7 linked regions of the Homo sapiens genome follow. The protein of the gene in region 1 purifies or fractionates together with the protein of each later gene. This does not show direct contact. Each region holds a gene or a part of one and is shown in the gene's direction. Other genes may lie near its edges. The genes, in order: NCEH1, UGT8, CANT1, ITGA7, TMTC3, ITPRIP and SCARB1.

What was found.
Region 2: the proteins of NCEH1 (region 1) and UGT8 purify together in Homo sapiens (affinity purification with mass spectrometry; 2 studies listed by BioGRID and IntAct, with this or other methods). This does not show direct contact.
Region 3: the proteins of NCEH1 (region 1) and CANT1 purify together in Homo sapiens (affinity purification with mass spectrometry; 2 studies listed by BioGRID and IntAct, with this or other methods). This does not show direct contact.
Region 4: the proteins of NCEH1 (region 1) and ITGA7 purify together in Homo sapiens (affinity purification with mass spectrometry; 2 studies listed by BioGRID and IntAct, with this or other methods). This does not show direct contact.
Region 5: the proteins of NCEH1 (region 1) and TMTC3 purify together in Homo sapiens (co-immunoprecipitation; 3 studies listed by BioGRID and IntAct, with this or other methods). This does not show direct contact.
Region 6: the proteins of NCEH1 (region 1) and ITPRIP purify together in Homo sapiens (affinity purification with mass spectrometry; 2 studies listed by BioGRID and IntAct, with this or other methods). This does not show direct contact.
Region 7: the proteins of NCEH1 (region 1) and SCARB1 purify together in Homo sapiens (affinity purification with mass spectrometry; 2 studies listed by BioGRID and IntAct, with this or other methods). This does not show direct contact.

What each region holds. Positions count from the first base shown.
Region 1 is NC_000003.12:172,648,568-172,652,067, reverse strand, and holds part of NCEH1 (neutral cholesterol ester hydrolase 1), read left to right. Parts: intron 1-3,500.
Region 2 is NC_000004.12:114,668,307-114,671,806, forward strand, and holds part of UGT8 (2-hydroxyacylsphingosine 1-beta-galactosyltransferase precursor), read left to right. Parts: intron 1-3,500. UniProt on the Homo sapiens protein: Catalyzes the transfer of galactose to ceramide, a key enzymatic step in the biosynthesis of galactocerebrosides, which are abundant sphingolipids of the myelin membrane of the central nervous system and peripheral nervous system.
Region 3 is NC_000017.11:78,999,765-79,003,264, reverse strand, and holds part of CANT1 (soluble calcium-activated nucleotidase 1), read left to right. Parts: intron 1-3,500.
Region 4 is NC_000012.12:55,697,905-55,701,404, reverse strand, and holds part of ITGA7 (integrin alpha-7 isoform 2 precursor), read left to right. Parts: coding exon of another isoform or gene 1-26; exon of another isoform or gene 27-55; coding exon of another isoform or gene 56-79; intron 80-250; coding exon 251-506; intron 507-518; exon of another isoform or gene 519-839; intron 840-1,011; coding exon of another isoform or gene 1,012-1,143; exon of another isoform or gene 1,144-1,378; coding exon of another isoform or gene 1,379-1,415; coding exon 1,416-1,535; intron 1,536-2,487; coding exon 2,488-2,695; intron 2,696-2,828; coding exon 2,829-3,022; intron 3,023-3,378; coding exon 3,379-3,467; intron 3,468-3,500. UniProt on the Homo sapiens protein: Integrin alpha-7/beta-1 is the primary laminin receptor on skeletal myoblasts and adult myofibers.
Region 5 is NC_000012.12:88,190,807-88,194,306, forward strand, and holds part of TMTC3 (protein O-mannosyl-transferase TMTC3), read left to right. Parts: intron 1-1,797; coding exon 1,798-2,024; intron 2,025-3,500. UniProt on the Homo sapiens protein: Transfers mannosyl residues to the hydroxyl group of serine or threonine residues.
Region 6 is NC_000010.11:104,317,966-104,321,465, reverse strand, and holds part of ITPRIP (inositol 1,4,5-trisphosphate receptor-interacting protein precursor), read left to right. Parts: intron 1-3,500. UniProt on the Homo sapiens protein: Enhances Ca(2+)-mediated inhibition of inositol 1,4,5-triphosphate receptor (ITPR) Ca(2+) release.
Region 7 is NC_000012.12:124,811,865-124,815,364, reverse strand, and holds part of SCARB1 (scavenger receptor class B member 1), read left to right. Parts: intron 1-250; coding exon 251-392; intron 393-959; coding exon 960-1,163; intron 1,164-3,399; coding exon 3,400-3,495; intron 3,496-3,500. UniProt on the Homo sapiens protein: Receptor for different ligands such as phospholipids, cholesterol ester, lipoproteins, phosphatidylserine and apoptotic cells. Receptor for HDL, mediating selective uptake of cholesteryl ether and HDL-dependent cholesterol efflux.

The sequences.
Region 1 (3,500 bases):
GATTCCACAGACCTATCTGGGAGTTTTTGTACCCCAGGGTTCTTTTTTCATTGGCTCCCAGATATTTATCTATACAGCCCTCATTTCCTCTGCAACACTTTCTCTTCCCCTCTTCTACCATCTAGCCTGGGAAATCACTTTCTATTCTAGGAGACTTCTTATTCGTCATGTAATCTTCTAAATCAATGCCTATTTTTTAAAAGATTCTCGGCCGGGCGCGGTGGCTCATGCCTGTAATCCCAGCATTTTGGGAGGCGGAGGTGGGTGGATCACTTGAGGCCAGGAGTTCGAAAACAGCCTTGCCAATGTGGCAAAACCCTGTCTCTACTAAAACTACAAAATGTAGCCAGGAGTGGTGGTGCATGCCTGTAATCTCAGCTACTTGGGAGGCTAAGGCACGAGAATAGCTTGAATCTGGGAGGCGGAGGTTTCAGTGAGCCGAGATCACACCACTGCATTCCAGCCTGGGTAACAGAGCGAGACTCTACCTCAAAAAAAAAAAAAGATTCTCCAAAAGATACAGGCTTTTAAAAATCCAAAGGAAGGAAGGAACTCCCGTTTCTTTGCTTTTTTTTCTCATAGCCCTTCAAAGAAGTAACAACTATAGAAAGGTGTGGCTACTGAATTTATTTTCTGGGCAGTATGGTAGGAGGAGAGTAATGTGAAGAGCTAAGGGAAAGATATTTGAGTAAAAAAAAAGTTAGGTAATATTCATGAGTTTGTCATTGATATCATATAGACATGCAAATGTTATCGCATACTGGATAGGGCTCAGAGCAGCTTCCAGGACCCACACTGATTTACACCAGCATTTCTAGGCAATTCTGTAAGTCCTGCAGCCCCTCAAGGTTTTAGAAATCCAGCTTCTGTACTGGCTCCTTAATGTCTAAGCTTCTGTTCTCTTCTCTCTGTAAGCAAGATAATAGTACCTACCTCACAGAATAGTAGCCAGAATTCAGCAACCTACCCTAGCACTCACTGTAGGCACTCAGGCAGTGATAGCTATTATTTATAATAGTACCAAGAAAAGTAATTAACAACAGGTTACTGTTCATATCAATTTTCAAGTTTTCAAACAGTCTTGATATTGGCTCTAGTATAACTCTAATTTATCAATACAATTGTGAACATTAGCACAGTTTTTCTTGTAGCAGTTCTCTAAATTCTTTTTCTACTCATCTACCTACCCTTTCATATTCCTGTCTTTTACCCTGCATAAACAAATTGTCCCTTTTTTTTTTTTTTTTTTTTTTTTCGAGGCAGAGTCTCGCTCTGTCATCCAGGCTGGATTGCAGTGGCACAGTCTCGGCTGACTGCAACATCTGCCTCCCGGGTTCAAGCGATTCGCTTACCTCAGCCTCCTGAGTAGCTGGGATTACAGGCATGTGCCACCATGCCTGGCTATTTTTTTTTTTTTTTGAGACGGAGTCTCACTCTGTCGCCCAGGCTGGAGTGCAGTGGCGTAGTCTCAGCTCACTGCAAGCTCTGCCTCCAGGGTTCATGCCATTCTCCTGCCTCAGCCTCCCAAGTAGCTGGGACTACAGGCGCCCGCCACCATGCCCGGCTGATTTTTTTTTTTTGTATTTTTAGTAGAGACAGGGTTTCACCATGTTAGCCAGGATGGTCTCGATCTCCTGACCTCATGATCCGCCCATCTTGGCCTCCCAAAGTGCTGGGATTACAGGCGTGAGCCACCGCACCCGGTCCCAGCTAATTTTTATATTTTTAGTAGAGATGGGGTCTCACCATGTTGGCCAGGCTGGTCTCTAGCTCCTGACCTCAGATGATCTGCCTGCCTTGGCCTCCCAAAGTGCTGAGATTATAGGCATGAGCCACTGCACTCAGCCAAATTGTCCCTTTTCTAATCAGCACTTCTACCCCCACACCACTGTGTTGCTATTGTAAACAATGCAGATGGTTGTTCAAGTATTCTGTGAATGCAAGCGAAACATAAGCTAACATGGAGAGATGTTTCTGGAAAGGTGTGAACAAATTGAGTCAAACCCGCATGTACTCAGAGCATGCATTACATAAAGGAAACTCGAGGTGGGCTCTCTTATAAAATGTACAGTCTTCTCATATCTGTCATATAAAGACAATTCACTTGTTTTACAGCTTCATATAGTTAAAGAAACTCATGTAATTTGTCTCAAGTGTTTAAGAAAGTCTTCATTTAATTAAAAAGAAAAGTACAGTTCATAATATAACAGAGCCAGGTCTGCCATTTCTTTGTTCATATTTCATCGTTTCGTGCCAGTCAAACTACCTGTCCTGTGACAAGTGGAATGGAGCTTGCATGTTCCCTATTAATTGATAATGGTGTTAACAAGGGTTTATTATATCTACTCTAGAAACTTTGGAAATACAGTGATTCTTAGCTATTCCCTGGCAGATCTCAATATTCTCTAAATTAGACTAACATTTTACCACAAAACTCGAATGGTAATTGCCTTCTTCCAATTTACCAAAGAACTTAAGTTGATAGTTAGAATCCTCTGTGCAGTACATGTGTGAACACATATGTGCATGTACACATGCATAAATTAGTATCAAAGACATGAACAGTTTCAACTTGTTCAGTAAATTGGGCAGTTGATGTCAGGGCACATGTAGAAGTTGAATTTTCTTAATATTCATTTGCTCTGCTGCTGCTTATACTTGCCAGCGAATAATATTAAAGGAATTCCTAAAATAGCTGTTCATTGTTTGATTAACTGCCTCTTGTTCTTGTTTTTCATTAACATTTGCTAATGCTGTTATAATATAGTGCTTTCTAACTCTTTTCATGACAGGACAGGACATATATATATGTGTGTGTGTATATATATATATGTATGTATATATAAAATATACACACACAGTTATAATGTTTATATGGGACACTGGGGTAAAGGGCTCAGGAATTTGCCCAGAGGCTGAGGCGATGAGCACACACGGACCCTCTTCAAGGTGTACCGTCGTACGCTGTGCACAGCCTGAGAAGCTGTAAGGTGCCACATCGCAGACATCATATAGTCCTGATTTCTGCTAGCAACATTGTTTCCGTGATCTTATGATCATTAATCACCAGTGTTCTGTTTCATCATCTACAAAAGAGCACTGTTACTCTCCAGCTGTTCCCCTTCCTGATGAACTTGCGAAAGTGGAGAGAAGGATATAAACTCAGAAGTGTCTTTGCTTGGTGGGTAAATTAGGTCTCCTTGCTATGTTCCTTCTGCAACCAAATAACTTTCTGCGAACACTTAATGCAGAGCTTGATACCCTGAGGGTTCAGAAGGGAAGAGACCATCAGGCAGTATGGTCTTTGCCTCATTTCTAAAAAGCTTCTGGTTATATCTGAGCTGAGCTGCTTCTAAATGCCAGGGCCTCCCTTGACAATGTTTCTTTTTTCTCACACGCTCCTTTCAAAAGGACAAGACACATTTAAAGATACAATTAAATATATTGAAGTTACAAAGCAATTTAAAGAAATTAAGCAATAAGACACACCCAAATATATG
Region 2 (3,500 bases), on another chromosome or scaffold:
AAGGTTTCAATTAACATTAAAGCTGATGAACTTACATACCACAGTATATTGTCAGTAGCCAATTATTTTCAATAGATTGTCAATAAATTATCAAATTATGGAAATATCCTTTAGATTCCTGTGATAATGCTTTGTGCATGTTTTCTATTATTTAGAAAATGAAAACAGCAGTCATTTGACCAGCCATGTTATGACACCAGATAATATTCTGCAAGGATCTTCCAAACAGGGAGAAACTGCAATGGGAACAATCTTTGGATATCTACATTGTGTCAAATGTTATGTGCTTTATTTCATTTTCATACTTATAACAGCTGTATATCACAGTTTTTATTATCCACATTATAGAGGCAAGGCACTTGATATTCATGGAACTTGAGTAATTTGGCTTACACAGCAATTGTAGTTGAAATTAGAAGCCAGGACTGTCTGATTCCCAAGACAGTGTTCTTTGTACTGCATGGTAAGCCTGGTGTTGCTGGGTTTCCCTAGCACTGAGTATTGCAGAAATACGGAGATTTATTTACTCAGGTGAATGATGAAGCAGAATCTTTATTTTGCTTTTTAAATTATTGATGGGTCCTGAGTTAAGCTAGTTCACCAATGAGTCTCAAAGGGTGAAGAACTGGCCTGTGTAGTTTTAAAACAAAGCAGCAGTTTTCTTCATTTGTAGATATTATATTTAATTTACCTTGCATTTCCAATAGCATTAAATATTAGAAGCGTATAAGCTTTTTCTTTTTATGCCTAGGGGATATGGCTTAACACTGAGAAACACTTGAGAAACACTGCCACATTCTAAGGAACAACCAATAATAAGAAAAATTATTTCATATAAAAGGATGCAGCTTGCATATAAAATGCTGAATTCAACTGAAGTTCATTATGCTGCCTTTATGTGAGCTCAGGGGTGACCTTCATGCTCTGGACTCTTAAAGGATCCAGTGTCGGATACAGCTCTGCCATTGGAGCAATGTGTTCCATAACTAGGGTTGCCTAAGTATATCCCTTCTTCTGTTATCTATAGTTTTTCTTTAAAGGTGTGCTTTTCAAAACATGATGTTATTTCATATACATATATATATATATATATATATATATGCACACATACATATACATCATGCATGTATCATATATGTGTGTGTATGTATGTATCTATCTTCAATCTTTCAGGAAAGTTTGTAAAATATAGCCCTAAGTAGAATTATGGGGAAACAGTTGCAGAACTGCTGAAATTGGCTCAGATGAAAAGGAAAGAGCAAAAATCTAGGTTATTCACAGGAAGTTAGTCCAGCTGTGTTTTGCGAGGCATGAACCAGGCTGAATCAGAGCAAGAACAGGTTGCAATCTTAGGTCACATGGCAATTAAATTCCAGCTATAGAATATTGAAGACATGTAAGTGCTTAATTTAAGGATTATTCAATGCAGTGAATAAATTTATATCATTCCCAAAAGTATGCACATCAGATAATGAGTTAACTGCATGTAACTTGAAAACCTTAAATATTTAACTGAAAGGATTTTGTGCATAGAAAGATGTCTTAGTCAATGTAAAAATGCCAGTGATTTGTGTAGCATGTCCTTTGCTAAAAGTCATTATATAAACTGAAGTCACTTATCTTTGTTTCCAATGTGATAATATTCCACATTTAACAGGTGATAATTATTGAAAATATTAGTTTGCCTCACTAATATTGTGTCCGAGATATTCTAGTTTAAACCAAGTAACTAATACTGTAAAAGAAGTATTCCTTTTATGAAGCCAGCATTATCCTGATACTAGAACTGGGAAGAGACACACACAAAAAAGAAAACTTCAGGCCAATATCGCTGATGAACATCAATGTGAAAATCTTCAATAAAATACTGGCAAACCGAATCCAGCAGCATGAGGCGGGTGGATCACAAGGTCAGGAGATCGAGACCATCCTGGCTAACATGGTGAAACCCCATCTCTACTAAAAATACAAAAAATTAGCCGGGCATGGTGATGGGCACCTGTAGTCCCAGCTACTGGGGAGGCTGAGGCAGGAGAATGGCGTGAACCTGGGAGGCGGAACTTACAGTGAGCCGAGATTGCACCACTGCACTCCAGCCTGGGTGACAGAGCAAGACTCTGTCTCAAAAAAAAAAAAAAAAAAAAAAAAAGCTTATCCACTATGATCAAGTTGGTTTCATCCCTGGGATGCAAGGCTGGTTCAACATATGTAAATCTATAAGGTAATCTATCACATAAACAGAACCAAAGACAAAAAAACACATGATTATCTCAATAGATGCAGAAAAGCCTTTGATAAAATTCAGTATCCCTTCATGTAAAAAACTCTTAATAAACTAGGTATTGATGGAACATATCTCAAAACAATAAGAGGTATTTATGACAAACCTACAGCCAGTATCATACTGAATGGGCAAAGGCTGGAAGCATTCCCTTTGGAAACCAGCACAAGACAAGGATGCCCTCTCTCACCACTCCTATTCAACATAGTATTGCAAGTTCTGGCCAGGGCAGTCAGGCAAGAGAAAGAAATAAAGGGTATTCAAATAGGAAGAGAGGAAGTCAAATTGTCTCTGTTTGCAGATGACATGGTTTTATATTTAGAAAACCGCATTGTCTCAGCCCCAAAATTGAACTGAAAGGAACTTCAGCAAAGTCTCAGGATACAAAATCACTGTGCAAAAATCGCAAGCATTCTTTTACACCAACAATAGGCAAGCAGAGAGCCAAATCGTGAATGAAGTCCCATTCAGCAATCACTACAAATAGAATAAAATACCTAGGAATACAGCTATCGGGATGTGAAGGACCTCTTCAAGGAGAACTACAAACCACTGCTCAAGGAAATGAGAGGACACAAACAAATTGAAAACATTCCATCCTCATGGATAGGAAAAATGAATATTGTGAAAATGGCTATACTGCCCAAAGTAATTTATAGATTGAATGCTATTCCCATCAAACTACCATTTACATTATTCACAGAATTAGAGAATACTATTTTAAATTTCATATGGAATCAAAGAAGACCCCCTATAGCCAAGACAATCCTAAGCAAAAACAACCAACCAAAAACAAAAAAACAAAGCTGGAGGCATTACGCTACCTGACTTCAAACTATACTACAAGATTGCAGTAACTAAAATAGCATGGTACTGGTACCAAAACAGACATATAGACCAATGGAGCAGAACAGAGACCTCAGAAATTACACCACACATCTACAACCATCTGATCTTCTACAAACCTGCCAAAAACAAGCAATGGGGAAAGGATCTCCTATTCAGTAAATGGTGCTGAGAAAACTGGCTAGCCATATGCAGAAAACTGAAACTGGACCCCTTCCTTACACTTTATACAAAAATTAACTCAAGATGGATTAAAGACTTAAATGTAAAACTCCAAACCATAAAAACCCTAGAAGAAAACCTAAGCAATACCATTCAGGACATAGGCATGGGCAAAGACTTCATGACTAAAACACCAAAAGCAGTTGCAACA
Region 3 (3,500 bases), on another chromosome or scaffold:
AAGGGAAGGTGTTCTGGTGCTGAAGTTAAAGGAATTTTCTGGAAGGTACACAGAGTTCTCTTGTCACTAGAAGCAGTCCCTTGTTTAACCAAAGGTGGCTGAGGCCCTGGCGTCTCTGCCCCTCTGTTAGCTCTGGGGAATCAGCGTGACCTCGAGGTAACACTGACCACACGGGACTGTTCAAAGTCTGTCTCCCCAACTGTGCTGAGCTCCTGGAGGAAAGGCCCCTGCCTCCGTCACACTGATTCCCCAGAGGGGCAGAGACGCCGGGACTCAGACACCTCTGGTTCCATGTGGTCAGAGGACATGAGCCTCCCGGGTGGGGAGCGTGTGCCACGGTGTAGATGCCAGGAGTCTGGAATAGGAAGGCGTGCAGTGTTGCACAGCGACCTGGGAGAGGTCCTGCTCCTGGGAGTGCAGGGGGAAAAACCCACTGAGGCTTTCTCTGCAGGCTGAGACGTTTGTCCTTCAGATGGAAGGCATTGGGATCTACTAGACTTGGAATCCAGACTTGCTTTTTGGAAAAATTATTCTGTCAGTTTTGTGGAGGGTGATTTGAGATGGTCTTGACCAGGGATCTGTCGAGGGACAGGGAGTCAGTATTTTCAGCCTCCACAGTCTGTTGCGACCACTCAACGGTGCAGCCAGACTCAGCATGCCAGGGAGGAGTCCTAGCTGGCTTTAATCAGCCACATCTACACACCAGGACGTGACTACACAGCAGGCCGCGTCTACGCAGGCCGCGTCTACACACCAGGCAGAGTCTACACACCAAGCTGCAACCACATACCAGGCCACACAGGCCGCATCTACACACTAGGCGGGAGACTGCATTTGGCCCACGGGTGGTAGTTTGCAACCCTCCCAGCAGGCGAGAGGGTACTTGTAGAGTGAGTGAGAAGCAGTAGCAGTCAGCCCCTGTGCACAGTTCTCTAACCCCATCAGCATGGCTCCGGGAAGTAAACTGAGGCCAAGGGAAGTCCCTTGGCTGAGCCCAGATGGTCTATATCAGGGGTGTCCAATCTTTTGGCTTCCCTGGGCCACATTGGAAGAAGAATTGTCTTGGGCCACACATAAAATCCATTGATAGCTGATGAGCTTAACAAAAAATCTCATCTCATCATGTTTTAAGAAAGTTTACGAATTTGTGTTGGACCACATGTTGGACAAGCTTGGTCTAGATCATTAGACCAAGACTCTGAGAGTCATCAGGGTGAGATGGAACTGGAGCCGAGGCTGTGTGGATGGGGAGAAGGGAAGCGAGTCTCAAGCTGGGTGGGACACGTGGGGCTGGGGAGGGAGGAGGGTTAGGACGAATTGCTTCCTGGGATGGCTCCTGAGGGCCGGCACTGCCAGGACAGGGAGTTCCTGAGGAGGACCTGGTTTGCGGTGCCTGTGGGTATCGGATGAGGAGGCTCAGAGACTAGGTCAGGCTAGAAAGGCGTGGGGGTCTTCACCTTAGAGGGCAGGCCCTGGGAGAGGTCAGTGGGCTGCCAGCAGTGGGGGCCGAGAAGACCTGCCTGGGAGGAGGCCCACAGAGAGTGCCCCCCTGCCTCGAGGAGGGACACTGACAATGTGCTCACTGGGTTTGCCACTGGTGAAGGCTTCAGGTGGCTGCTTCTGAGGATTAGCCAGAGGGAAGGAGAGGGTGTAGGTGTGGGTGCTCTTGTACCATGGTGGGCGAGGGGGCCTGGGCGGGGGTGGGAAGGGACAGAGGTGCCGGGGACTCAGGGAAGGGTTTTCCTTCATTAACAGATTCGCCATTTATTCAGCAGCAGTTGAGTGTCTGTGGGAGTGTGGGGTCTGGAGGTAAAATGGTGACAAGGTGGGCGACTTGGGGCAGCCTGTGGATGGAAGGGAGGAACCAGAAGAGCAGGTGCCCGGCGGCTGGGGGGACTGACCTGAGTGGCAGGTGTGAGCCCCACCCAGGGGCCTCGGCTGCTGAAGTTGGCCACAGAGTGGTCTCCTGGGAGAAGTGGGCCGGAGATTTGACAGGAATGGTGAAGGTGAGGACAGTGGCTCTCCGGAGTGCTGAGGGAGTTGAACAGGGAAGAACATGGGGGTTCCAGGGGCTGGTGACGACGACACCTCACGATGTCTGACAGCAGTCTATGCAGGCACCGTTGTTCTGTGCTGGCAAGCACCGTCTTCCCGGGCCTGCAGCTCAGATGTGGCAGCTGAGCAGCTCGATCTTTGGGGTGCTTGATCCAGGTTGTGGGTTCATAATATGCCTAAGGTGGGGCCCCCGGTAGAGTGCAGAGGGGCTGTTGAAGAAGTGGCTAATGGCTCACCTGGCATCTCTTTCCCTTCAGCCAATGCGTGCAGACTGTCTGCTCCCTGCCTGGCAGTGCGTCAGGTGCTGGGGCTGTGACAGTGGCCAGATCCCTGCCCCAGGAGCAGAAATAATCACCTAGCCAGGCAGGGACGGTGGGAGAGCCGGAGCGGCATGGGAGGGAGGGCGAGTGGGCAAGTCTTCCCAGGGAGCTGATGCCCCGTAGGAGAGACCGAGCTGCTGGTGCGAAGAGCAGGCCCGACTGTTCCAGGCAGGGGGAACTGCAGGCTCTGCCAGGGCCAGTGTGGTCAGGGGACAGAAGGAGGTCTATGTAGCCAGCCGGCAGGCAGAGGAGATGGTACAGTGTGAGGGCTGAGCGGGAGCAGAGTGGGTTCACCCCAGGACCTGAGGAAGCCGCTGAAGCTGGGAGTGTGCCATCTGATGGATGCTACTTCATGGCAGGTGGCGAGGGAGTGTCAGGGGATGTTGGTGGGGGGCAGCTGGCAGGGCAACTTCATGGCGGGGGGTATGGGAGTGTCAGGGGCGGAGAGGCAGGAGGGGTGGAGGGAGGCAGCCGGCATGGCATGGTGAGGAAGGGCCATGGAAGAGGACAGAACCTGTCCACGGAGTCAATGCTGAGGAAGGAAGACGGAGGATGAGGCCAGTCAGGTTTTTCGTGGTGGCAGTGCCTTATGTTTTTATCGAAGTGTATATTCACACAGAAAAGCACATCTCCCAGGATCCTGAGAGAGCTTGAACCAGACCACTGTGGACACGGTGGCCACCCGTCACCACTACCCTTCCCAAGGGGAGACGAGGAGCAAGTAGGCTTGAGGGAAAAGCTGCACAGGACTCGTGTCTTGAAATGTCTAAGACGCATGTCAGAAATGCAGGTAAGGGGGGGTGCGGGTGCTCGCACCTGTGATCCCAGCACTTTGGGAGGCTGAGGCAGGAGGATCACTTGAGCCCAGGAGTTCAAGACTGGCCTGGACAATATAACGAGGCCTCATCTCTATAAAAAAAATTAAAAATTAGCTGTGCCCCAGGTGTGTTGGCTCACACCTGTAATCCTGGCACTTTGGGAGGCCAAGGCAGGTGGATCACCTGAGGTCAGGAGTTCAAGACCAGCCTGACCAACATGGAGAAACTGCATCTCTACTAAAAATACAAAATTAGACGGGCGTGGTGGTGCATGCCTGTAATCCCAGCTACTAGGGAATCTGAGGCA
Region 4 (3,500 bases), on another chromosome or scaffold:
GGAGATCTCCATTTGAGGGCAAGGAAGTGGGTGCAGACAGGTTGCTGGGTTATGCATGGACCTGTGTAACACTGGCAGGGTAATGGTGCTTGAGTGGTGCCGGCATAGGGGTGTGTGTGTATGTGTGCATGTGCATGTGCATGTGAGCACACATGTATCAGTATCTGCCAAATCTCTGCATATGGGCAGCATGCCTCAAGCAGGTCCCTGGCCCACAGAGTGAAATGATCCCCATCCCTTCCTCCCCCAGACCTGTGCACACCGATATGAGGCAAGGCAGCGAGTGGACCAGATCCTGGAGACGCGGGATATGATTGGTCGCTGCTTTGTGCTCAGCCAGGACCTGGCCATCCGGGATGAGTTGGATGGTGGGGAATGGAAGTTCTGTGAGGGACGCCCCCAAGGCCATGAACAATTTGGGTTCTGCCAGCAGGGCACAGCTGCCGCCTTCTCCCCTGATAGCCACTACCTCCTCTTTGGGGCCCCAGGAACCTATAATTGGAAGGGTGAGTCACTCCTCGGGAAGGGGAGAAGGGGACCAAAACCTCCTCTTACCTCAGAGACAGGGTTGGGGATGGCACATGGCCAAGCATGACCACATGTGCACTGCTGTATGGCCCCAGGGCACTGCCATGCCTTCCACCCCATTGAGCTAGTGCACACATGAATGGGGGGTGCCTCCTTTCCCTCGCACGGCCAAGTGTTCCTCAACATGCTGGCATGGGCCCCAAGTGCACGCTGGGCCTGCAGCTGGGGCCTGCATGCTCCAACACACTAGCCCACACCTCATCACTGCCATTCCCGTCTCCGCACGCTGCTGCTGGCTGAGCTGACACTCGGTGAGTGTGATGCCACATCTGGGGGACCCCAGGAAGCCTGGGTTGGGGACAGGGTGGGGAGAGGGCTAGAAAGAAGAGGCAGGGCTTCCCCGTGTGCCTGTCTAACTCAGTGTCCGGCCTGAGGGGTGTTCCTTGCGCCCTGCCCTGGGCACTAACAGGTCTGTCCTTGCAGGCACGGCCAGGGTGGAGCTCTGTGCACAGGGCTCAGCGGACCTGGCACACCTGGACGACGGTCCCTACGAGGCGGGGGGAGAGAAGGAGCAGGACCCCCGCCTCATCCCGGTCCCTGCCAACAGCTACTTTGGTAGGGACCTCTCCCCGGCCCAGAACTGCTCTAACCCTCTGCTCCTCTCTCTTGTCCTCTCTCTCCATGCTCCCATCCTTCTGTCTCTGTTTCTGTCTCTCACCTTGTCTCTCTCTGTCTTTCTGTCTCTGGCTGTGATCTCTCTGGTCTCTTTTTCTCTCTCCACCTCTTCTTCTTCCACCATTTTCTGGCCTTTCTGTGGCTCTGTCTCCCTACTCTGTGGCCCCTACTCTGGATGTCCCCTCCCTGGTGTCTCACCCCACCCCCCACAGGGTTGCTTTTTGTGACCAACATTGATAGCTCAGACCCCGACCAGCTGGTGTATAAAACTTTGGACCCTGCTGACCGGCTCCCAGGACCAGCCGGAGACTTGGCCCTCAATAGCTACTTAGGTTTGTAAGCTCCCACCTCCTGGACTCTAGGGGCATGGCCCAGCCTCCCCTCCTTCCCCAGGGAACTCGACCTTTGGTGCCTTATAATCTCCTCCTCCCCCAACACACACCCAGGGAGACATACATTGGGCCCAAATTGCAGAGAAGAGCTGGGTCCAATGATCAGGCCTAAGAGGAGGAGGCCCCCAGGGTGGTGGCCTCTGGGGCTGTGAGCCAGGGGTCTCCATGGAGGAAGATTCAGGTGGAATGAGAGGGCCAGGGCTGAGGATATTTTGGGAAGGACAGTCCTGTCTTCTAGGGGGACTTTCCCTGAGGGGATGGATGGTGGGCACATATTGAAGAAAGGGCTAATGTTGTTGGTAAGTCCCTCTCGTTGTCTCATCTGCATTCCTCTGCAGAGGAGGAGGAAACCAGGCCTGGGAGATGTTTGGGTGAAGCAGGCGCTCTCTCACTCCCCCTTGTCTCCCCCTCATCCATGTGAAGACTTCCCCTCCCTGCCAGGATGAGGGAGTTGGGGGAAAGAGGTGCACTGGGTGGGATTCGGGCCTGAGAGGGACCTCTAGCTCTTCTAGCTCCCTGGGTGTGGGCAGGGTGAGGCCACTGTGCTCAGCCTCCTACCTGGGCTCCTGGCCTTCTCAGCCATCACCTTTCTCTCTCTTGCCCAGTCCCTGAGGCTGACCTCACTGCACTTTTTGTGCCAAGCTTGTCTCTGGGCCTGGTGGGTGTGGGAGGCTGCCAGGCCCTGTGGGGAGGAAGAGCTATCCAGCTGTGGTGCTGATGACTTGGGGGGACCTATCTTTTGGCTCTTAACCTAGGGGAGGGGGCAGGGTGCAGGGGAGCTGTGACTTGGCTCTTAACCTGTAGGGAGGGGGCAGGGGCTGGGGGAGCTGTGACACACCCCAGCTTCTGAGTCTTGGGGTGAAGACTTAGGGGTAAGTCACCCTTCCCCCAGGCTTCTCTATTGACTCGGGGAAAGGTCTGGTGCGTGCAGAAGAGCTGAGCTTTGTGGCTGGAGCCCCCCGCGCCAACCACAAGGGTGCTGTGGTCATCCTGCGCAAGGACAGCGCCAGTCGCCTGGTGCCCGAGGTTATGCTGTCTGGGGAGCGCCTGACCTCCGGCTTTGGCTACTCACTGGCTGTGGCTGACCTCAACAGTGATGGGTGAGTGGGTAGAGGGCCGTGCCACCTGAGGGAGGCTGGGTCTAGTAGCCCCAGTCTGGCTGAGGCCACTTAGCCTCCTGCTGGCTCCTCTGGCCAGGGAGGACCCACACTGAATGTTTCCCTCTCTCCATAGCTGGCCAGACCTGATAGTGGGTGCCCCCTACTTCTTTGAGCGCCAAGAAGAGCTGGGGGGTGCTGTGTATGTGTACTTGAACCAGGGGGGTCACTGGGCTGGGATCTCCCCTCTCCGGCTCTGCGGCTCCCCTGACTCCATGTTCGGGATCAGCCTGGCTGTCCTGGGGGACCTCAACCAAGATGGCTTTCCAGGTGTGACGGGGAACTGGAAAGGCTCAGGGAGGGAGGGGCCACAGGAGGGATGGGGAAGCCCCTCAGAGGTCAGGGTGTGGTCTTCTGAGGACTCAGGGAGAGAGGGTCCCTGAGCTTATGTCTGAGCTGTACCATTTACCAGCTTTCTGACCTTGGCAAGTTCCTAACCTTTTTGCGTTAGTAATATCTGCAGGGAGTGGCCAAGAGGATTAAAGATGATGTATGTAGAGTGCCTGGGATTTTGTAGCCTCTCAATAAAATAGAAAACATACCTGAGTGACTGGGGGGAGTTGAGGCCTGGATCTTGTCTGCAAGGCCCCCAGCCAGCGTGACTGCCTTTTCCCTGTGCCCTGCAGATATTGCAGTGGGTGCCCCCTTTGATGGTGATGGGAAAGTCTTCATCTACCATGGGAGCAGCCTGGGGGTTGTCGCCAAACCTTCACAGGTGAGGGGAGTCGCTGGGATGAGGGAATGGGTG
Region 5 (3,500 bases), on another chromosome or scaffold:
AAGGGGAATCCCTAACTTGTAATAGCCAACTTAGGTTTTGTATTAAGGAAAGGGTAGAAGCAGCTCTGTCTTAGTTGCATTTTCTTCCCATCACCAAAATTGTTCTTTTCCTATTTAAATTAAAACTTGAAACTTACATTTTATAATAGTTACTTCTAATATCAAACTCTCAGGAACTTTCTTGTTTTTAGAGTTGATTGGTTATTGATGCCTTTGACACAAAGAAAACATCTTGGTTCTCAGCAAAAAAAAAAGTTTTCTGGCACCACATGTTAAAACTTCATTTATTTTCTCATGTATGTGTTATCATTTGTATTACTTTTGAGGAAAAATGTGTTTTTAAACTTCGTTTTGTAGCCTGGTCCAGAAAACTAATAGTAATTTGTAACATTTTTTCCTTTGGGGAAAGTACATTCTGAATTTAAGTTTTTGAGATAAAATCTGTTTGTAAGTTGGGGTTTTCTTTGTTCCGCCGTGCCTATTGAGTTTATTAGCAGGGTTGTATCTATAAATAACACCTGTCATGTATTAATTCATAAAGAACTATTCAACAATCTCTACATTAAAAAAATAATATTTTGGACAAACATTCATTCTAGAAGTGGTTTTAATGAGAATATTAATTGTTGTTCCTTTTATTTCTGTGCTGATACTATAGGAAAGAGTAGTATTATAAGAACAACTCTCATATCACTACTTAAATATTATTTGTACATATGTAAAAATAATTCTTTAAGCAAAATTACTTTTTAAAATTTTCTAACAGAAAATAGAACCACACTAGAAAGATTTATACAATGGTTTCTTAACTGGTCCTCAATTCTAAGTGTGTTCCTCAAAGTTATCTACAGGTCAGATTAATCCCTCCCACTCTACCTGTTCAGCTTTTTTTTAGTCCTTTTTCTGTTTGTTTGTTTGTTTGTGACAGAGTCTCACATTGTTACCCAGGCTGGAGTGCAGTGGTGTGATCTCGGCTAACTGCTACCTCTGCCTCCTGGGTTCAAGTAATTCTTGTTCCTCAGCCTCACTATTAGCTGGGACTACAGGCGCGTGCCACCATGCCTGGCAAATTTCTGTATTTTTAGTAGAGACAGAGTTTTGCCATGTTGGTCAGCTGGTCTCCAACTCCTGACCTCAAGTGATCTGCCCACCTCAGCCTCCCAAAGTGCTGGGATTACAGGAACGAGCCACCATGCCCAGCATTTTTCTTTTTTTTTTTTTCTTTTTTTTTTTTAAGAATGGTCGTATTATAAGAAGACATTGATGAGGACTAAATTAATATAAGAAGGGGTTACAGATTTTTAATATTTTGGTTTTTTGCATAGTGAGCCTTCTATTATACATTCAAATATTGGAATTTCTCTTACCACTACTATATGTCATTTTTTTCTTCTAATGCTGTTATTTTGTCACCTGACAAATTCATTAATCTTTCACTCTGGCTAGCTGCCCTTTTTCTGATGCAGTTTAGTCTGTCTCCTTTTTAAGATAAAGTCAAAGAATATATTTGCTCTGTCCTCCTTCCTGGATTCCTCCTGATAGGTTGCCCTCTGAAATCAGGCATAATTTTTTTCTTCTTAAATAATATTTGAAAATATATCAAGCCAAATATACTGAACTAAGGAGTTCAGATTTGAGGACAGTTTCAAAGAGTTGTTTTCGAAAGAGAGTTTTTTAAGAGTCTGAGTTAAGAGAAAAAAAAGCTGTATGTGGAAAGGCTTAAAACTTGGCAAAAATTGTATCTACAAACTGAGATGGTAATGTTGTAAGTAAAGCTTGTGTTTGATTTTTCCACAGAGGAGAATTGCTTTTAAAAATGAATAAACCTCTTAAAGCAAAGGAAGCATATCTTAAAGCACTAGAGCTGGACAGAAATAATGCAGATCTTTGGTACAACTTGGCAATTGTACATATTGAACTTAAAGAACCAAATGAAGCCCTAAAAAACTTTAATCGTGCTCTGGAACTAAATCCAAAGCATAAACTAGCATTATTCAACTCTGCTATAGTAATGCAAGAATCAGGTATGTTTTCTCAAAATATTTCTGTTTATATAAATTGTAGTTTATAATATAATAAGACCTTAATTTAACTTTATTACCCATAGCAAACACTTTATGTATTGACAGTTTATAGCAATACTGTGCTTAACTGATTTATAGAAAGAATATTTAAAATACTTGAAGTAAACTATTTTCAAGTAACATGCATTCTAACATATGATAATACTGATTTTTAATTCTTCTGGCATGTGTTAAGACTAATTTTTCAGGCAGTCTATTAAGCAACATTAACTATTTTGTCATTTTATATACATAAACATAATGTAACTTATATATAAACTCTCCAAATAATATGAACTTGTGAAATTTTTTACATAATTGGCTGTGAGGAGCCAAGAGCATATGTTTTCAAAAAAATAGCATTTTATTTTCTTTTGATTCATAAGAGCAAATACTTTTGGCACCATTTTATATCCAGTTTTACTACGTTTTCTGAGATGTTGTAATTTTTTATATTTCCTATAATTTAGCAAAACTAAATTATTAACCACAGTAAATCTGGATCCTTCATCCATATTTTATATAGGAATTTCAGTTCTGCCTCATAAGATAGTGTATATGATTTATAATCTTTTTAATTTATAAATTAGAAAAATCTATTATAATGTTTAGTTATTTCTTAGATACATTTCGTAAAACTTTTGTAAAATATGAAAGAATCATAAAGTCGTAGTATTTTAGAGCTAAAGAGGACCTTTGAGTTTGCATTTGCCAGTCTTCTATTTAGTAGAGTGAAAACCAAATAGATTTTATGACTGCCCCAAAGTCATATGGCTAAATAGGTAACCCAAGACAAGAACTGAAGCCTCCTGATTTATTTTCAAATTTTCTTTATCCATCGTGCTGCCAAATAAAAGAATAGAGAGAAGTCTTTATGCCTGGTGTCCAAAAAAGTAGAAATTTGGAGAAAAGCTAATATTTTTGTAAGGTTTTCTACCTTGATAATCATGAAGGATGCTCATTATTCGACACAAGATTGTACTATAAGGTTTGTAATTGTAGAACTTGAACTTTTTTGTTTTTTTGGCTTTTTTTTTGCAATAGAAATTATCTCAATGGAGATTTGTTTCCTGCCAGGCAGTGGCTGATGCCTGTAATCCTAACACTTAGGGAGGCCAGGGTGGGGAGGATCACTAGAGGCCAAGAGTTTGAGAATAGCCTAGGCAACATAGTAAAACTCTGTCTCCACAAAAAATTTTAAAATCAGCAAGAAATGATGGCACATGCCTGTAGTCCCAGCTACTCGGGAAGCCAAGGTGGGAGGATTGCTTGAGCCCAGGAGTTTGAGGTTACAGTGACCTGTGGACACAGCACTGCCCTCCAGCCTGAGTGACATAGTGAGACCCTGTCTCAAAAAAAAGAAGATACATGTTTCCTAAATCCTAATTTTATAGCCCTATATTTAATGGTATGTTTTTGTCCTCGAAACATTCCTAA
Region 6 (3,500 bases), on another chromosome or scaffold:
TGAATAAACCACTGGTCCCAGCCAGCCACCTGCAGCCCTCTGTCCGGGCCACCCAGAAGCTTCCATCTTCCCTCAGCCCCTGTTGCCCCGTGACTCCAGCGTTGCCAGGCTAAGTTTAGCTGTGAACTGCATGGGCCGCCCCTCTCTGTGGACAAGGGCAGAGGTGGAGAGGAATTCAGCAGGCTTCCTGGCAAGCAGACAGAAAAAAGCCCGCCAAGTGACCCAGGTTTATTCTCAAAGCCAAACCCACCAGCTGATGTCTCAGACCACAGGTGCGGGAGAGCCTGGTAGAGGTGAGAACTTTGGGCCAAGGCAGAGGTGGACATCCTTGGAATTGGGAGTAGGGGACTCTTTGGGGAGGCATGTGCTGGTATGTGCAAGAACATGCACACATATACACATATCCATGGTTTGTGAGAGGCTCCTCACTACCCGTCCTGTCTCAGAATGTCAGAATGCCCTGTTTCCTTCCCTTTTGTGGACAAGTCAACTCTATACAATATTTGAAGGGATTTATTCTGAACCCATCTGAATGACCAAGGCCTGAGGCACAGTCCCAAGAGATCCTGAAAATATGTGCCCCAGACAGTTGGGTTACAGCTTGATGTTACACATTTTAGGGGGACAGAAGTTACAGGCAGGCCAGGTGCTCACACCTGTAATCCCAGCACTTGTGATCCCAGGCAGATCACTTGAGGTCAGGAGTTCGAGACCAGCCTGGCCAACATGGTGAAAACCTGTCTCTACTAGAAATATAAAAATTAGCCGGGCATGGTGGGGCATGCCTGTAGTCCCAGCTACTCAGGAGGCTGAGGCAGGAGAATTGCTTGAACCTGGGAGGCAGAGGTTGCAGTAAGCTGAGATCCCTCCACTGCACTCTAGCCCAGGCGACAGAGTGAGACTTAGTCTCAAAAAAAAAAAAAAAAAAAATTACAGGCAGACCTCCATCAATGCATGTGTAAGGAATATGTTAGTTTGGTGTGGAAAGATGGGACAACTTGAAGTGAGGGCAAGGAGTGGCTTCCTGGTCATAGGTGGATTCAAAGATTTTCTGACTGGCAATTGGTTGAACGAGTTAAGTTATTATCTAAAGACCTGGAATCAGTAGAAAGGAGTGTCTAGGATAAGGGGTATGGAGACCATGGTTCTTACTATGTAGCTGAAGTCCCAGGAAGCGAGTTTCAGAGACAGGAGATGGTAAGTGTCTGTCAAACCTAAAAAGGTGCCAGACCCTTAGTTCATCTCTCCTGGATCAGGAAGAGGCCTGGAAAGGGAAGGAAATTCTGTACAGAATGTAGATCAGACTCTTAGTTCATCTCTCCTGGATCAGGAGAGACCTGGAAAGGGAAGGAGATTCTGTACAGAATGTAGATTTTCCTGACAATAGGCAGCTTTGCAGGGCCATTTCAAAATATGTCAAAGAAATATATTTTGGGGTAAAATACTTTGATTTCTTTCAGGGCCTGCTATCTCATATGATGCTATATTGGGTTGAAATTCGGTATCTTATTGCTACAGAGTCTGTTTTGTCACTCCTAGGATCTCTGTTTTAACGTTAATGCTGTTCAGTTGTGCCTGAATTCCAGAGGGAGGAGGGTATAATGGGGTTTGTCGGCTCCTCCTTCCCATCATGGCATGAACTGGTTTTTAAGGTTTATTTTGGAATCCTCTTGGCCTGCAGGACATTCTTCTGACCCCTGGGGTCCCCAGGGCAGTGTTTCCTGTGACTGGGTTTGGGAAGGGGAAGTACCAGAGGCTTCAAACTGAACCCCATCTGGTGGGCCCTGAGCGACCACAGCCCTATTATCTGCCTCGGCCTGTCCTATCCCATAGGGTGCTGCAGACAGAGCCAGCCTGTGCAGAGTTTAACAGGGAGCCAAATGACAGCTGGGATCCGATCCGGGGAAGCGGGGAGATGGATTACGTGAGAAAGTGAGTCAGAGGGAACCCCTGACCTGCAGGAGGATCCCAGGCTCTGAAGCCTTCTCCCCTTTGCTGGGGGCCAGGGTGGACTCAGGGGTGTGCCAAGGAGGAGAAATAGCAGTGGAACATCTTGTGCTTTCAGAGCACTTTCGAGCGTGTGTTTACTCCCCATGCCTGGGGCTCAGGCAGGGCTGCTGTGCTCAGCAGGTGAGAAAGCAGAAGCCTGTAGATGCTGAGGAGAGGAGCCTGCCCTGTGCCAGGCACGGTGCTAAGCACCCAAGGTGTATGATCTCACTCACCCGTCCCAACATCCCTGTGAAGGAGGAAGTGTTATTAATTCCTCCTCACAGGGAAAGCGTGGGAGCGCAGAAGCTGTGCGATCCACCCACAGTCACTCAAGGTTAGAACACAGGTCTGCTGGGTCTACAGCCCAGGCCCCCTTTCCTTGCAGTCCTTCCCCAGGCTGGTGCCCTGTTTCCCTGGTGCTTCTGTTGAGTCTTGTCTGTAATCCTACAATTACCAGTGCTACTATGCACTGCCTACATCCTGCCAGAGTTCCTTGTAGGGGCGTCTGCGGCGCACTCCGCCCTGAACCCCAGCAGGCAGGGTCATCTGCGTATTTCCATCCCATCGCAGTTCCTTTCATAAGAAAACTTGCTCAGGAGCAAGCATGTTGCTGAGTGCTTTACATGCATTATCTTGTTCAAGCTTTATAACAGTAGATATGATTATTCTCATTTTACAGATGAAGAAACTGAGGTTCTGGGAAGTGATTTCTCCGAAGTCACCTCCAGTAGGTGCACATACTGGGTTCTGACCCAGTCTTGTCTCCTCTCGAGTCTATCCTCTTTTCCTCTTGCACACAGAGTTGGTCCCTTCAGTTGGTTTGGAGTTCTGAACCTTGCCTGTGCCAGTACAAGGAGGCTCTTACAGCTCCTCCTCCTCTGGCAGGAATGAGGATGTAGCAAGTAGCACCATGAAGTGTGGCGTAGACACAGGGATGGTTCCCAGCCATAGGGCTTGGCCGTGGCCCCACTCACCTGTTCGTGGCATCCTGCACTGAGTTGACAAGGAACCTGGGTAGGTGGTTGTCCGGGCTATTACTGTGACTGGTCAAGGCCCACTGTGTCCAAAGGTGGCTGCCTGTGATCCAGGCAGCTTGAAGGACCCTAAAACCCCCCAAATTATCTCCTAACTGGCTGCTGCCTGATATTCTGCTATGAGTACTCTCCACCTTTATGTTAACTTTCTCACCCATGTTAATCACCCAGCCTCGCAGTTAGTTATGCCTTGGACCCTCCCTGGCAAAACTTTCCGTTGATGTTTCTCTAATGTAGAAACCAGGCTGACCTGTTTCTGCCATTATCCAGCAAGCTGCTCCTTGGCTTGGGGAAGGAAAGCTGGCTCGCTGCCCCCTGCACTTTTTCCTTACCCCACCCACCTTGCAGTGTGACTTCTTCCACTTCATCCTGTCCCCGCTTTCCTCCTCCAGTGGAAACCTGTAAGTGCTTCAGTGCTCACCTCTGAGGCCCACACTGAGAATCCTCAGGGTGGAGGACGGACCTTCTCCACTCCCC
Region 7 (3,500 bases), on another chromosome or scaffold:
AGAGACGATGGCCGTGTTGGGTGGGGGAGAGCAGAACGAGGCCGGGTGGGCGGCGACACCATGTCCTGCAGTGGGCAGGCGGCGGGAGGGACAGACTTGGCGAAGGGGCCGAGCTCAGCTTTGGCTGTGGGGCCGGAGGTGTGCACAGACGTCCAGGGCCCCTGGTTCCCAGGCAGGCATTGCAGGCGAGTAGAAGGGAAACGTCCCATGCAGCGGGGCGGGGCGTCTGACCCACTGGCTTCCCCCACAGGGAGTTCAGGCACAAAAGCAACATCACCTTCAACAACAACGACACCGTGTCCTTCCTCGAGTACCGCACCTTCCAGTTCCAGCCCTCCAAGTCCCACGGCTCGGAGAGCGACTACATCGTCATGCCCAACATCCTGGTCTTGGTGAGGCTGCCCTGTGGCCCACGCCGCCTCGCACCCTGACCTCGTCCCCTGTCTCTCCTCCCGCCTGCCCCTTGTGCAGAGAGCAGTCCCTGAGGTGGTCGGAGCGTGGGGACTCACGCCTGGTGGGTGGCTTTCGGCCCTGTGCTGTCTCCACCACCCCCAGTGGGTTCTGAGTTTCCCAGGTGGGTCCACCTGTCTTGGTTTGGAAGTCCTGGCCAAAGTACTTTTTTTTCCCTTTTCAATTTACATTTCTGAGATCTCCAAAAGGGGCTGTCTTGTTGAGGGCTGAGCCACAGGCCCGCCTCTGGGACTGGGGCTGGAGTTCACTTAGCCTGAGTCCAGTGGGGTGCAAGGGGGAGAAGGGGTTCTCGGGAGCACATGTGGCCTTGGCACTGGAGGAGCAGAGGGTGGTTCTGGTGTCCCAGATGCCCCACGTGGCCACTCCAGGGGCCTCCTGCACCCCAGCATTTCCCTTCATGGGCTCTTTGCTGTGAGGCCCAGCTGGGGCCAAGGGAGGATGGGCCAGCCACGTCCAGCCTCTGACACTAGTGTCCCTTCGCCTTGCAGGGTGCGGCGGTGATGATGGAGAATAAGCCCATGACCCTGAAGCTCATCATGACCTTGGCATTCACCACCCTCGGCGAACGTGCCTTCATGAACCGCACTGTGGGTGAGATCATGTGGGGCTACAAGGACCCCCTTGTGAATCTCATCAACAAGTACTTTCCAGGCATGTTCCCCTTCAAGGACAAGTTCGGATTATTTGCTGAGGTACGTGTGGCCTGGTGAGAAGCCAAAGATTCAGGCCTGTGTCCTGTCTTCCCCTCACACAGCCTGGACACTGGTCACCAGCTTGCTTTGTAGCTGGCTGGGGATCTAGTGGCTGTGGGTTGTAAGTGACTGAGAACCTGACTCAAACCGGCTTGAGTGAAATGGGGAATGTTGGGGCTCATAGAACTGAAAATGCTAGGGTTGGATTCAGGTACAGCTTGATCCAGGCTCAAATGATGTGACTGGGCCTTAGCTTAGCAAATTGGAGGCTTTGCTGGAGGAAGGGGGCATGGCTGCTGGGGAGTAATATCACAAGCTGACTCTTAATCTTGACTCTTGGCAACCTGGTAGGGTCACTGACTGGGCTTCGGAGCCAACATCTCGTCCATGGAGGGTCTGACCCTGACCTTGGCTCCCTCACCGCAGGTTTCACTGAGTCCTTGGGACTGCTCCAGCCTCAGCCATCTCTTTGGTCTCTGCTGATCAGGGTAGAGTGCTGGGGGGGATATCGTGGTGCTGCGTGTGATAGATACTCAGTACGTTTTTGTCAAGGGTGACGGGCTCCTGTCGTGTGGGTAAATGAGCAAGTTTGGGCTAAGTGGCATGATGCTGTAAAGGCATCTTGTAAATCCTGAAGTGCTTTGCAAATGAAAGTTATTACAAAGTCCCTAGTTTAGTATAATCTACGTTTGACTGCATATAATGAAAACCTCACAAGAAAAGTCTAGCGGTAGGCTGTTCAGTGTTGGTGTGGTGGCTTCATGGTCTTAAGTGATCTGGAAGCCTTCTACTACTGTGCTCTGCCATCCTTGGCATGTGGTTTTCATCCTCAAGATAACCTCATTGTCCAAGTTGGCTGCTAGAGTGTCAGCAATCACATCACATTCCAGGCAGCACAGCAAGAAGGAAAAAATGGTGGGGCTTTGGGGAGCAGATGGAGGAACTGGGGGTAAAACAGCGTGTTCCAGTTTCCTCCCTCTTAGGGAGGAAGAAAACCAATGTCCACTTCCTTTCTATTGGCCAGAACTGAGTCACATGGCCACACCTAGCTCCAGGGGAAGCTGGAAAGGTAGCCTTTTAGCTGGGTGTGCTGATGCTCTGAGTATGGTTTGGGTTTTGTATGAAAGAGTAAGGAGAGATTGGGCTTTGGGTAGTAACTGGCAGTTTCTGATGCTCTCCGTCCATTATAATGATCATTTAAGTATCCTATTGGGTGAGCATTTATTAATAATAACAATAATAATGAAAATAAAGACTATCATTTTGAGCTCTTACTGTGTCCGGTGCACTGTACCTGGCCGTTTTTGCACATGAGTCCCTTTAATGCTCCCCTTTGTAGTGGCTCTGGTTATTCTTGGCTCCACATGGGCACGTGACAGACACACCCGGGATGCTGGGCTGGGGCCTTGTGCTGGGTCCTGCTCTGGAGGTCTGTGATGGGTGCAGTCACTCAGCCGGGCAACCTTGGAGCTCCTCAGTGTGCTCCACCCTGCAAAGCACTTCTAGATATTTCCTTCAGTCACTCATACCACTTTGTGCTTTGCATGTCTTTGGGATTAGAAACCAGCTTCTGGGAAATGCTCTCGGAGCACCAAAGCCTGGGCCCCACTATCAAGAACCTCGATGGGTTAGGACAGGCCAGGTTTTGCTGCTGTGACAAGCAGCCCCGGAATCTCCATGGCTTAGAACAACCAAGACTTATTCCTTTGCTTGCACTCCACGTCCAGTGTGGGTGACTGGGGCACCCGCGCTTGTGGTGGTCACTTGGGGATCCAGGCTGAGGGAGGCTCTGTCTTGACACATACCTCCTTGGCTGCTATAGCAGCGGCAGAGAGCCCGGTGAAAGGCGTGTGCACAGTCCTTAAAGCATCCCCCCAAGTGACATGCCACTTCTCCTTTTTCATTGCTCAGGGAGCTGACCTGGCCATGCTTTATTTTATGCTGGAGTAGGGTGTGGTGGGGGTGATCTGCCATTTACCTGGGAGGAAAGCCAGACTCTCCTGGAGTTAGGAAGGGAGGGTGGAACACTGCAGCCACAGAACCCGGGACCATTCCTCCTAGAAAGCTCCCAAGCCTCCTCTCGGTCCCCAGACACTGGGCATTTGGCAGTGAACCAGATGCTGGGGGCCCTGTCCTTCTGGTGGAGGGGGAGGAGGGCTCAGCCCAGAATGTTCAGACCAGGCCGGCTCAATGGCAGGCCTAAGCCTTACGATGCTGTTCCCTGCTGTGTCTGTAGCTCAACAACTCCGACTCTGGGCTCTTCACGGTGTTCACGGGGGTCCAGAACATCAGCAGGATCCACCTCGTGGACAAGTGGAACGGGCTGAGCAAGGTGAG